Homo sapiens: one gene and its partner. The protein of the gene in region 1 purifies or fractionates together with the protein of each later gene. This does not show direct contact. Each region holds a gene or a part of one and is shown on either strand. Other genes may lie near its edges.

The links.
Region 2: the proteins of SOCS7 (region 1) and CUL5 purify together in Homo sapiens (affinity purification with mass spectrometry; 5 studies listed by BioGRID and IntAct, with this or other methods). This does not show direct contact.

The regions. Positions count from the first base shown.
Region 1 is NC_000017.11:38,389,783-38,397,072, reverse strand, and holds part of SOCS7 (suppressor of cytokine signaling 7), read right to left. Parts: intron 1,765-7,290; coding exon 1,629-1,764; intron 1,226-1,628; coding exon 1,105-1,225; 3' UTR 1,075-1,104; intron 1-1,074. UniProt on the Homo sapiens protein: Substrate-recognition component of a cullin-5-RING E3 ubiquitin-protein ligase complex (ECS complex, also named CRL5 complex), which mediates the ubiquitination and subsequent proteasomal degradation of target proteins, such as DAB1 and IRS1.
Region 2 is NC_000011.10:108,102,693-108,108,346, forward strand, and holds the end of CUL5 (cullin-5), read left to right. Parts: intron 1-1,497; coding exon 1,498-1,692; 3' UTR 1,693-3,514; coding exon of another isoform or gene 3,515-3,595; 3' UTR 3,596-5,069; downstream 5,070-5,654. UniProt on the Homo sapiens protein: Core component of multiple cullin-5-RING E3 ubiquitin-protein ligase complexes (ECS complexes, also named CRL5 complexes), which mediate the ubiquitination and subsequent proteasomal degradation of target proteins.

The DNA of each region.
Region 1 (7,290 bases):
GGTTCTTCTACAGCACTGCACCCACAGACGTGGTCCTCTAACTGAATGGCCTAATTACTCTTCAAGGGTAGTCAGGTAGGTGGACCTCCCTAGTGCTCTACCTCTCACCCTAATCTCAACTGCAAAGCCATCATGCAGAGAAATCCACCTAGACACAAGACATTAGATATTTAGTCATTTCCAAAGGCATACAATTTGCATATAATTGAAGACATGATGAGACTGTACATCTACTCCAGGATCCACACCAGAAGAAAGCAGTCACTGCACACTGGCAGTCAATCTTGCTTGTCACCACCACCACCAAAGTCATGGCTCCCTGGCAATTGTGTTCCCTACTCAGGAACTTGGCCCCACAATGTTCACTTTAGTGCAATTTAAAAGACTAATTGGAATTCATCTGCACAAACCAGTATTGCAAGATGTTTTATGGGAAAATAAATGGGTAGAACTGTGTAATGATGGGAGAAGAGCCTCGTAGATAAATGAATTCCTTAGTTTCAACAATTTACTTTGTAATGGCCCAAATGGAACGCTAAATAGAAGAGTGGGCTGTTTTTCCTCATCCCCATATTCCAAGCTGTGGGACATGGTGGAGTCTCACTGAAGTGCATGCCTGTTGCAATTAAAGGCATGTTTGCATTCTCTTTGATGAAGTTTCCTTTCCCTTTAGCTTCCTGCTTTATATGCCATTTGTGCAGTATCAGGGAGATCAGCCCAAGTCTGTATGAGAGGAGGCTGCACTCTTCTTCTTATTTTTTTCAATTACCCTCTCCTTGCCAGAGGCCGCACTCTTAGCTACACTTGGGTGTCCCCCTCCTTGCTCACATTCAGTGATTAGCTTGCACGTTTCCTGGCAATCTACTTTCTTGTCTTTCTCGTCTGTCTGCTTTTCTCCCAAATGGGGTGTGTGCCCCTTGAGGACTCCACGGTCAGATCTTGTCATTCTATGGGCAAATGCCTGGATCGGGGCTATCCATGTTGGGAGTTGTGGGGAGGGGGCCCAAGGCTCAATGCATGATGATGACTGCCCAGGAAGAAATGTGGCTGGGCAGTGAGGCAGAGAGCTCATACCCTTGGTGGTGACCAGCAGGGAGCCCCTCGCTACGTGGAGGGTTCCACCTCTTGCTTCTGTTTGGAAATGAGCTGCGCTTCCTTTAGAGACAGGTATACCTCTTCCTGAGGATCATAGTAGTAGAACTTTCGGATATAAGAGATCAGAGGTCTGTGAAAAACAAATGACGGATATACACAAAAGGTTTTTATACAAAATATAAAAGAAGTAACTCCTTTGTTCAACTCTTCTTCACTCCCTACATGGTTGAGACCTAACACAATCCCCATTTTCTCAGTTATTATAGTTCTGTCTTCCTTACTCTTACCACTTCTACTCTATTCTTCCTAGAGACTGCAGAAGGAAGGCTGACACACACACCTTCCTCCCTCTGGCTGCAATATGACAGTTCTAGAGTTAGGTGCTAAGACACAGGAAATGTGTAAGAATGACATCTGCAAATATTTTATGCCAGACTCTGCCTGTGAAGGTAGCTTGCAGGCCTCACTGACATTGTTACCTCCCCACAACCCCCTTACTCATTCCTGTCCCAAACCTGACAACCCCATTGTACTTAGGCAGTGGGAGATCTGGGATGTGATCTATCCTGACGAGCTGTCGTATCCGGAATCTGCAAAGGTGCTGGAGGGATTTGACATTGCTGAATCGGGACACTGGATAGAGCAGCTGGACAGGAGTTGGTGGCAGTCCTTCAAGAAAGAAAACAAAGGAAAGTATTCAGAGGAAACAATGGAGCTAACTACCATTTCTTGTATGAAGAGAACCTAGGGAGGGGAAATGGGACTTCTTTATGGTTCATATATGTATTCTGTGCAAAAGCCCCTCCACAAAGTGCTGTTGATTTCCATTTCCAGAAGCACCACCACCACATTCACAATTAAGGAAATCCATTCTCTGCCAAAGGCCTCCCTAGCATCACTTTTTTGTGTGTCTTTTGTTTTGTTTTTTGAGACAGGGTCTCGTTCTGTCACCCAGGCTGGAGTGCAGTGGCCCAGTCTCAGCTCACTGCAGCCTTGACCTCCCAGACTCAAGCAATCCTCCCGCCTCAGCCTCCTGAGTAGCTGGGACCACAGATGCATGCCATCGTACCCAGATAATTTTTGTATTTTTAGTAGAGACGGGGTTTCCCCATGTTGCCCAGGCTAGTCTCGAACTCCTGGGCTCAAGCAATCCACTCGCCTCAGCCTCCCAAAGTGCTAGGATTACAGGCGTGAGCCACTGTGCCTGGCTCCTAGCATCACTCATAACAGCTGAGAGTCCTGCTCCTCGGAGTAGCCCAATTATGCCAAACTAGAGACACTGCTTGGACCCAAGTGGCCAATCCCAGGCCTGAGGCTCTCGGGAAGGCCAAGAATCAAAAGTATCCCTGCTGGGAATGGGAGATACTTGTTGGGCACATCTAGCAGTATCCTGAAGGTGAGGACCCAGAAAAGCCGTTCAGAGGAGTCCCCACCAAATTCCAATTGGTTCAGCAGAGGCTGGTTCAGCAGAGAGGCTGGTTCAGCAGGGAGGCTGGTAAGTAGAAGGTAACAGCTAGGATCAAAGTTAACAAGCCTATTATTCCTGCCATTATTTCAAGCCAGGATAATCAGGTTTAGCTACCTTTTATACCCAACCCCCATAACCCCCAGTTCCTGCTTCTGAAATTTTAGGCCAGGAGACCAAAAAAAGATGATGCTTTTAAAAGAACAACTACAATCGCTTGGGCAAGCTAGGATTAGTACCGCTCAGTGCAAACCCGCCTGCTGATTGATGCCAAATAGACTCAATGGGAGTACCACACCCTTATGTATTAGCAGGCTCTGTGCTGGGGAATCCCACCCCAAAAAGGGCCCCACGCCACAGCATGGAGACATCCAGAATGGCAGGAACACTGGGATTCAAGGGAACTAAGAATATTTTGCTTTCAATAAACAAAGGGGCTATGGAAGGTAAACAAGATTCTTTGAGAAAATCTGAGTTGCAAAACCTGTCAAAGAATTCTCAGCCATTGTCATATCAAAAGACATTCTATAGACACAACTGATTGGAAAATAAAATATCTACTATTATTGGGGTTTAAGTTCAAATAGTTTTTTTGTTTGTTTGTTTGTTTTTTGAGGCGGAGTCTTGCTCTGTCGCCCAGGCTGGGGTGCAGTGGCGCGATCTCGGCTCACTACAAGCTCTGCCTCCCGGGTTCATGCCATTCTCCTGCCTCAGCCTCCCGAGTAGCTGGGATTACAGGCACCCACCACCACGCCGGGCTAATTTTTTGTATTTTCAGTAGGGACGGGGTTTCACTGTGTTAACCAGGATGGTCTTGATCTCCTGACCTTGTGATCCGCCCACCTCAGCCTCCCAAAGTGTTTGTTTGTTTTTTTAAGACAGAGTCTTGCTCTTGTCACCCAGGCTGGAGTGCAGTGGCGCGATTTTGACTCACTGCAAGCTCCAACTCCTAGGTTCAAGCGATTCTCCTGCCTTAGCCTCTCGAGTAGCTGGGATTACAGGCGCCCGCCACCACACCCAGCTAATATTTGTATTTTTAGTAGAGACGGGGTTTCACCATGTTGGCTAGTCTAGTTTCGAACTCCTGACCTCAGGTGATCCACCTGCCTCAGCCTCCCAAAGTGCTGGGATTATAGGCATGAGCCACCATGCCCGGCCCAGATAGTTTTAAAATTTTATTTGAAGGCATGAAAACAAAACAAATGAAAGCATGTACACCGCATCCCAAGGCCTTTCCATGATCACTGACAACATACTTTCCAGGGGAAAAAAAAAATCAAAATACATTATTTTATTGTTACTGAACAAGTTAAGCTCATCTTAAAAACATTTAACTCAGGCTGGGTGCAGTGGCACACGCCTATAATCCTAGTACTTTGGGAGACCAAGGAGATAAGATCACTTGAGGCCAGGAACTCGAGGCTACAGTGAGCCAAGATTGTGCCGCTGCACTCCAGCCTAGGTGACAAAGTATGACCCTGTCTCTAAAAAAAAAACAAAAATAATAATGATAACTTATTTAGTCTTTAAAACTATACTTTGAGGCAAACACCACCATCCCCATTTCACATATAAAGAAACTGAGGCCCACTGAGCTTAGAGAACTTGCTGTGGCATGGAGCCACTAAAGCCGGCCTGCCTTGAACACCTGCCCTAAGGAAGAATTATCGGTAGCTCTGCCATAGCCGAGGAACCTCTCAGCAGGGTTCTCCAGGAGGGTCTCTAGAGTGCCTGCACCTCTGCCCATCTAACAGGGAGGTTGTCCAGGACAGTCACAGCACTCTGGTTCATGACCAGCCTCTCCTAGTCCCCTCCCTGGCACTCCCACCCCTTCAAAACTAAGTCTTGTATTTTGAAGCCCTACTTCTCTCCTCTACCCACATGGCTGGTCCTCTCCATTAAAAGAAAAGAAAAAGAACTCACACGTGAATTTCTCACCTGAATATATTTAACTCAAGTGGTTTTAAGAAATAATTTTGGGTTCAAATGCCTCTTTGAATTTGTCCTGTCCCTCACTGGTATTTATATATTCTTTAGTAAATTAAACTGTGGCAAACAGAAAGCTTTGGGGGATTGGCTGTAATACTGGTAAACTCAACATGATGTTTCAGAGATAAAAGTAATTTATACATCTAATAATTTATTCCCAAAGATAACACTGTGCTTAAAGAGATCAGGATAATATGCAACATACAATTATCTGATTGTTTGCCTACTTGAATTTTAATGACCACATATACTTGCCTATTTAATTGTATTACTTTTAGCCTTTAGGTTTACAAATAGCAATTTGAAACCTGTTAATTTTCTGATATTCCCTGGTATTAATCTGACCATTTACTGTTTGCCCACAAACGCCAACAAACAATTAGAACTCTCACATTTAGAGCATGCTAACAGAAGCAGTTAAAAATGTGAAGAATCCAGGATAAGACCCAACTGGGACTAAAAGAGTAAGGGTGAAGTCGAACATTAATCGTCAGTAACTTTCTTCCAGTCCTCATGCCAGAGGTCCTGGGCACAAACCTAGTTTCTAGCCATGCACTATTTTTCGTTTCTCCCAACAAAGACCATGTTAGGGGTAAGAAATCTCTTCCAGGTATAAACACCCAAATACCCATGTCTTTCTGCCACACCAAAGGTTTTTCTGACCCCTGAAGACAGAATCAGATAAGGAATCACATCTGTTTCACATTCCAGATCTCATTTTCTTAACAGTGTAAGTAAAAAGAGAATAAACTAGGGAGTCTAGTTGACTTATATGTAATCCTCCAAGAAGAAAAAAACAAGCACAAGGTCAAAAGTAAAAGAAGGCCCAGTGCGGTGGCTCACGCCTGTAATCCCAGCACCTTGGGAGGCTGAGGTGGGAGGACTGCTTGAGCCCAGGAGTTCAAGATTGGCCTGGGCAACATAGGGAGGGAGACCTTACCTCTACAAAAATTAAAATTAAAAAAATTAGCCAGGCATTGTGGTGCACAACAGTGGTCCCAGCTACTCAGGAGGCTTAAGTGGGAGGACTGCTTAAGCCCAGAAGGCTGAGGCTGCAGTGAGCTATGATTGTACCACTGCACTCCAGCCTGAGTGATAGGGTAAGACCCTGTCTAAAAAAAAGATATTCAGCTAACAGTGAAGCACTGTTTTTTAATATCCCACTCCTTTCTTCAGCTTGAAACAGCTTAAGAAAAACTAAACAATAGTTTAGCTTAGTGGGAGCAGGGGTGAGAGGGCAGAAGATTCACTTTTCCTTATATTCCCTTGCGCACTATTTGACCTTTTTACCACATACATGTTATTTCACAATTTAAAAAGAAATACATAATAGAACTAATAAATGAGTTATGCAAGTTTACAGGATATAACATGAATGTGCAAAAAGCAATTAAATTTCTATACTCTAGCTATAAACAATCCAAAAATAATTAAAATTAAGAAAACAATTTACAATAGGATCAAAAACAAATACTAAAAAATAAATTTAACAAAAGAAATACAAAACTTATATTATGAAAAAATATGGGCCAGGCACAGTGGCTCATACCTATAATCCCAGCACTTTGGGAGGCTGAGGCAAGGTGGATGGCTTGAGCCAAAGGGTTAGAAACCAGCCTGGGCAATGCGGTGAGACCCCATCTCTACTAAAAATATAAAGATCAGCTGGGCATGGTTGTGTGTGCCTATAGTCCCAGCTACACAGGAGGCTGAAGTGCAGGACACACTGGGCCAGGGAGGTGGAGGTTGTAGTTAGTGAGCCAGGCACCACTGCACTCCAGACTGGGTGACAGTGGGACAAAAAAAAAAAAAAAGACAGAAAGAAAGAGAAGGAAGGAAGGAAGGAAGGAAGGAAGGAAGGAAGGAAGGAAGGAAGGAAGGAAAACGAACAAAAGAAAAAATATAAAACATTGTTCAAAGAGTTTTTAAAAAGACCTAAATAAGCAGAAAGACAGCCTATGTCCATGGATCAGAAGACATAATATTGTTGACATGCCAATATTCCCTCCCCAAATTGATGTACTGACTCAACTCCACACTCTTGCCAACATGGGGGTATTAAAATCTCAGTAGGCTTCTTTGCAGAAATTGACAATCTGATCCTAAAATTCATATGGAAATGCAAGAGACCCAAAATAGTCAAAACCAACTTGAAAAACAACAAAGTTGGAGACTCACACTTTTCCATCTCAAAAAGTACTACAAAACTATAGGAATCAAGACAGTAATGGCATAAGGATGGACATACAACTCAATGGAATAGAACTGAGTCCGGAAATTAACCTTCACAGTTACAATCAACTGATTTCAACAAAGATGCCAAGACAATTCAATGGGGAAAGAGTATCTTTTCAACAAATGGCGCTAGAACAACTGAATATTCACATGAAAAAGAATAAAGTTGGACTCCTTTCTCATGCCATACACAAAAATTCAAGGCTGGGTACGGTGGCTCACACCTGTAATCCCAGAACTTTGAGAGGCTGAGGTGGGAGGATCACTTAAGGCCAGGAGGCGGAGGTTGCAGTGAGCCACGATCGTGCCACTGCACTCCAGCCTCGGTGACAGAGAGAGACTCTGTCTCTCTCTCTCTCACTCTCTCTCTCTCTCTCTCTCTATATGTGTATATATATATATGTACATATATATATATATGTACACACATACACACCAAACAAAAAAATTAAAAAACAAAAATTAACTCAAAACGGATAGTAGACCTAATGTAAAAGCTAAAAGTT
Region 2 (5,654 bases), on another chromosome or scaffold:
CCCAAGTCTGTTGATTTGCAGCAAAATTATATTTTTAAACGTTAAAAGCAAATGTTACTTCTTTTTCTATTTTGACATTTCTTTTACAACAAACTCTAATCTGTGCTAAGATAGATATATGCCTTTTGTTTTGGAGACAGGGTCTCAGGCTGTGGTGCAGTGGTGTGATCTCAGCTTACTGCAACCTCCACCTCCCAGGCTCAAGCAATCCTCTTTCTTCAGCCTCCTGAATAGCGGGGACCACAGACACACGCCACCATGCCTGGCTAATTTTTGTATTTTTTATAGAGATGGGGTTTCGCCATGTTGCCCAGGCTGTTCTCAAACTCCTGGACTCAAGCAATCCACCCACATCACCCTCCCAAAGTGCTAAGATTACACACATGAGCCACCACACCCGGCATATACATGCCTTTTGTTGGGTAAAGAGAGAGCTGGTACTGGAAAAGGTAAAAGAGAAAAGAATATTTAATGATTTTCTGATAACTCTTATTGTAAACTTAACAGTAATTAAGGAAATCATCAAGAAAAATTTTGATAAAATGACCTAGATGAAAAAGATTTATTTCTTTAGAAACTTAAAAGTGACTGGGCATCGTGGCTTACACCTGTAATCCTAGCACTTTGGGAGACCAGGGCAGGGGAGTATTTGAGTCTGGGGGTTCAAGACCAACCTGGACAACATAGCAAAACCTTGTGTCTGTATTTAAAGAGAAGAAGGGGAAAAAAAAAACCTTAAAAACATTTAATTGAGTCAATATAAACTGAAGATAATATTTGTAGCAAATATAATTAATTAATCTGGTAAATATATAAAGAGTACTACTTAATGACTTTTAAAACAGACCCCACCTGACCTGTACTGCTATACAAAGAAATAACTGAATACAAGGGAAAAATTTGGTGTAAGGGGTTTGTTATATTTTAATTAATGTTTAACATGATACCAGGTTATATACACATTGTTTTCACAGGTAAGATAACTTTTAAGAATGTGAATGGCATGGGAAAAAAGGAATTGAAGGAAATAATATTAAAACATTAGGTGTAGTTTTCTTTCAGCAGAGAAGCAGAGGTAATTTTGCTTTTCCTTATTTTTCAAAATCTCTATAGTCAGATTTTTTTTAAATACATACTTTAAGTTCTGGGATACATATGCAGAATGTGCAGGTTTGTTACATGGGTATACACGTGTCATGGTCATTTGCTGCACCCATCAACCCGTCATCTACATGAGGTGTTTCTCCTAATGCTTATCCCTCCCCTATCCCCCCACCCCAATAAGCAGATTCTCTTTTATGGGGCATGAGAAAACAAAAGATGTTTTTATTTGTTAAGTAAAAGATACTAGTCTCAACATTAATCCCCTAGTGATTATTATTCATTTGGGTAGATGTTGGATAGAGGATGAATATGCATAAAAAGTCATTTTTCAGTTTGTTGTACTTAAAATAATTTCGTATATTAATGCGCTTTTATTTTTATTTTTTCTTTTAGGAAGCTATCATACAAATAATGAAAATGAGAAAGAAAATTAGTAATGCTCAGCTGCAGACTGAATTAGTAGAAATTTTGAAAAACATGTTCTTGCCACAAAAGAAAATGATAAAAGAGCAAATAGAGTGGCTAATAGAGCACAAATACATCAGAAGAGATGAATCTGATATCAACACTTTCATATATATGGCATAATTTTGAATATCATGGACAATATTTAGAACCCAAATTTTGGAGTGCTTGGGCAGAAAGTTGTAAAGTTTGTGCTGGAGAAAGGTTTATTTGGACTTTGATTACATAAATATTAAAATCTCTGCCTTACCTTACAAAAACAACTATATTTTGCCAATCACATTAGTTAGCATGATGGCATTCCCTTCATGTTGCACACTCTTTGACAGCATGCTGTTTTGTGGAGAAACTTGCATTCATGAAGAGCCCATTATCAACTTTTAAAAGTGAATTTGATTTGTACCCACCAGGAGAAATACAGTTGGGAAGGGTGAGGGTGGGGTTCTTGTTGCTTTTTTCTCTTTTTTCCTCTCTTAAAAAATGTACTTGCACAAGGAAGGATCTTCAGATATTCATGCACTGAAAAATGCTGTTATCTTTTGTTTTTAAAAAATGCAATTAAAACTAGAAATAGCACTCTTGGTTTCTTTTGATGAAAAGAGTGAGCTGGTCAATGCAACATTGGGAAACGGCAGATGTAGGTGAGAAGTTAAGTATTTAATAGTATCAAATTGTTCAAACATTGCTCAGTATAATAACTGGATTTTAATGGTGACCTAAAAATGGTATTAAATATTTTCAACTTTCAAATGTTGGTTTTCTTTAAGCAGGAGACTGCTATTTTAGTTGTTGTTAAATGATGAGGAGTTTTTTTTTTTTTAAATATGGCTGGAAAGCTTGTTTTGAAAAATGAAGCTTATATTAATTGTTGCTTCAATAGTTTAAAAAATTTATGGAGATAGGTAGGTCATTATGATTGCAGAGCCAAAATAGCAAAACAAACATATTAAGTGTGTTTACTAAACATATTGTGTGTTTACTAACACACTTAATGTTTATATACCTAATATTTATTATGCCATATCTGAATTTATTAAAAACAACACAGAAATCTCCTGCTCTGATATAGTTATGTAACTGATCTCTTAATCTGTAGCATAGAAGTATTTTGGTATTTTAAGGTCTCATGATTAGGGATTTGTAGCCTCAGGTTTGAATCAGTCACCTAGGGGTAAGAGAAAAACCACAACATAAGACCTGAAAAACAGAAGCAAAATTGTTGCACTCTTAATACGAGCAGTAAACTTGCCAAATATATGTACATATATATTTATATATTTTAAAAATAAACATTTTTTAAATCGTCAGAAGGCAACATTTACCATGTTCCTTTCAGTCTATCCAAAGTAGCAACTTAACTAGTTGCTGGCAACTGAATACCCAGAGTAGTGGAAATTTTAGGACTTGAGGACGTGAACAACTTGAAAGAGAAAATTGATTCCCCTTGAGGAAAGAATGGCTCAACGTGGATTTTTATTCATTGTGGTGCACGTTTCAAATTTTCTTGCAAATTATTTTATATCTTATTTGATGTTAAGTAATATTTTTAAAGTATGGTTTTTGAAGATAGTAGGAAATGGAGTACAGAAAGGCATACAGTATTATGTTACAGTGGAGTGCTTTCAAGAGCATTTCGTAGGATCTGTCCCCATCCGAAGAGGCTTTGTGAACTGCCTGCTGAATGGAAGGAAAGCAACTTTAAAACATTTAGAGTTTTGCTGAGTATAGCCAAATGCCTGTTCTGAAACTTATAGGAAATTGGAATTTTGTTTAAAATTTTACACTTTAAGGTAGCAAATGTCAATTATTAGACCGAGCATATTGTGAAGAATTAAACTAAAATTAATACGTACAGTTTTCTCTAATTAGGTGACTGTTCATAATGGGTATATTTGGAATTTAGAAGAAATAATTTTGTAGTAATTGTGGCCCTTATGTTTAACAGATAATTCAGCATTGGCGTATTTGCTTGTCCCAATACAAGAATGCCAAAGGAGGAAACAGGAAAAATTGCCGTCCATTTTAAAAATTTAGGTTTGTTGTTTTAAACCATAATTGTTCTCAGAACTTTTTTGGAACTTCTAATTTTGGGTCATTTAATTTAAGAATGAGAGTCATGATGTTTTGATTTATGAAGGTGAATTTAATGCAAAAGTGGGTAACACTACATTCATAGCAAAGTTTTTTATTAAATTTTATAAATTTTTAATAGCCAATTATGTCCTAATTGTATTTTGGGGAATGAACAGCAGCAAATACTGTAAATGTACAGTTTTCTTTTTTTTTTTTTTTTGGTTATGTATACAAAAGTTTTAACTACTTTTTGGTGTTTATGAAAATCATTTAGTTGACAAGGTGCCTATGCCATTGTTAAATTTTCTTTAAGTAATTTAACAACAGATTTGCTAATTTAAAAAAAAATGAAAAAAAAAATCTTACCAGCAGTTTGTAAAGGTCTGGAATCACAGTTGGCATCCTTTATTCAGGTCTCTTCTCTCCAGCGTACACTTAAAATTGGTGCCGAGCAGGGATATAACCTGCAGTTAAGTGAAAAGAAAATCCAGCCTCCCCCTCCAAAAAAAAAAAAAAAATTTAATTTTTAAAAATTAGTGGTATGGCAATAAGACACTTCAGAGGCTATCTTAACCTCTGAATACCCATCTTCTAGTTTAAAGACAGAGACATCCCATCTGGAAAATGTTAACTTGTGTTGCCATCTCGTTGCCGGAGTAAGTAGACATAAGACAGAGTTTAAGAAGTAAAAATATAGAAAAATTTTGATGGTCACAATGAGATAAATATTAGAATATTACTATTCCAATGATTAAATGAGGATCTTGAAATAAATTCTGAAGTCTTCCAATTTTTACATTTATTGGAGGGGTCCCTGAGTTCTGTCAACTTTTTTATTTAAGTCTCTTGCTCTTATTTTGTGCATAAATGTTAAACCTTCCAAAAATGAAATGTTAGCTTTCTTTCTTTTACTTTTTATTAAATTTAATAGAAAATATGACCTGAGTAGTTAAAAAGTATTTTGCATTATTTGCAGTAAGATGTCTCTAGCACTGCTCAAAGGGCAAATTTTAAAACTTCAGTCTGGGTGAAAGATTTGCTAGTTTTACAGAAAGATTTGCTATCTTAAACTCAAGCTGGTTTTTCTGTTCTCATGTAAGTGACTGGGATGCTGTCTTATGAATTCTTCCAAGGTCATGTTTGTGAAATAAACATTACATGAGAGCTTTCCTGTCATCTACACTATATGTTGTCTGGAGTGTTGAACAAATTTATTTTAGTTTCTAAGTTGTAATCTATCCTCATATGGTCTATACGATTTTGAATGTGTGCCACTACATACTGAGATGATAATGCTGTACAATTTTAAGTGGTAGCAGTTTCTGTATGCAGTAGGCTGAAATATTTTGATGAACTGCTTAATTTTTGGATTTTATTTTTTAAGTTGTATAATTTATTTTCTTGCAAAATAAAAATGTAATATAAAAGCTTTTACCTATCCAGAAAATGTTGATGTTCTACTATAAAATAGTTACAAAGAGTTTAATTAAAATTTTTATAGTAGGTATATTTTTAAATTTGAAGGTAAATTAATCTCAGCCAGCCTTAGGAATCAGAAATATGAAAAGTAACCCACTTATTTATATTAGACTTCAAATTCTAATTCAAAATGAGAGCAGTCAGGAATGTAGCTTTTCCACTGATGATAGCATGTGGCTATATGCCTGGAAGAGGTAATAAAAAAAAAAAAATTCCAACCTGAAAGTGGTTAATATATTCATCAACTAAGATAGGCTATGTCATAACAAAATTCAAATTTTATAGCAGATAAAAGTAAAAAATGGGCCGGGCTCAGTGGCTCACGCCTGTAATCCCAGCACTTTGGGAGGCCAAGGTGGGTGGATCACCTGAGGACAGGAGTTCAAGACCAGCCTGGCAAACATGGTGAAACCCTGTCTCTACTAAAAATATAAAAATTAGCCGGGTGTAGTAGCGCGCGCCTGTAGTCCCAGCTACTCGGAAGGCTAAGGCAGGAGAATCGCTTGAACCCGGGAGGCGGAGGTTGCAGTGAA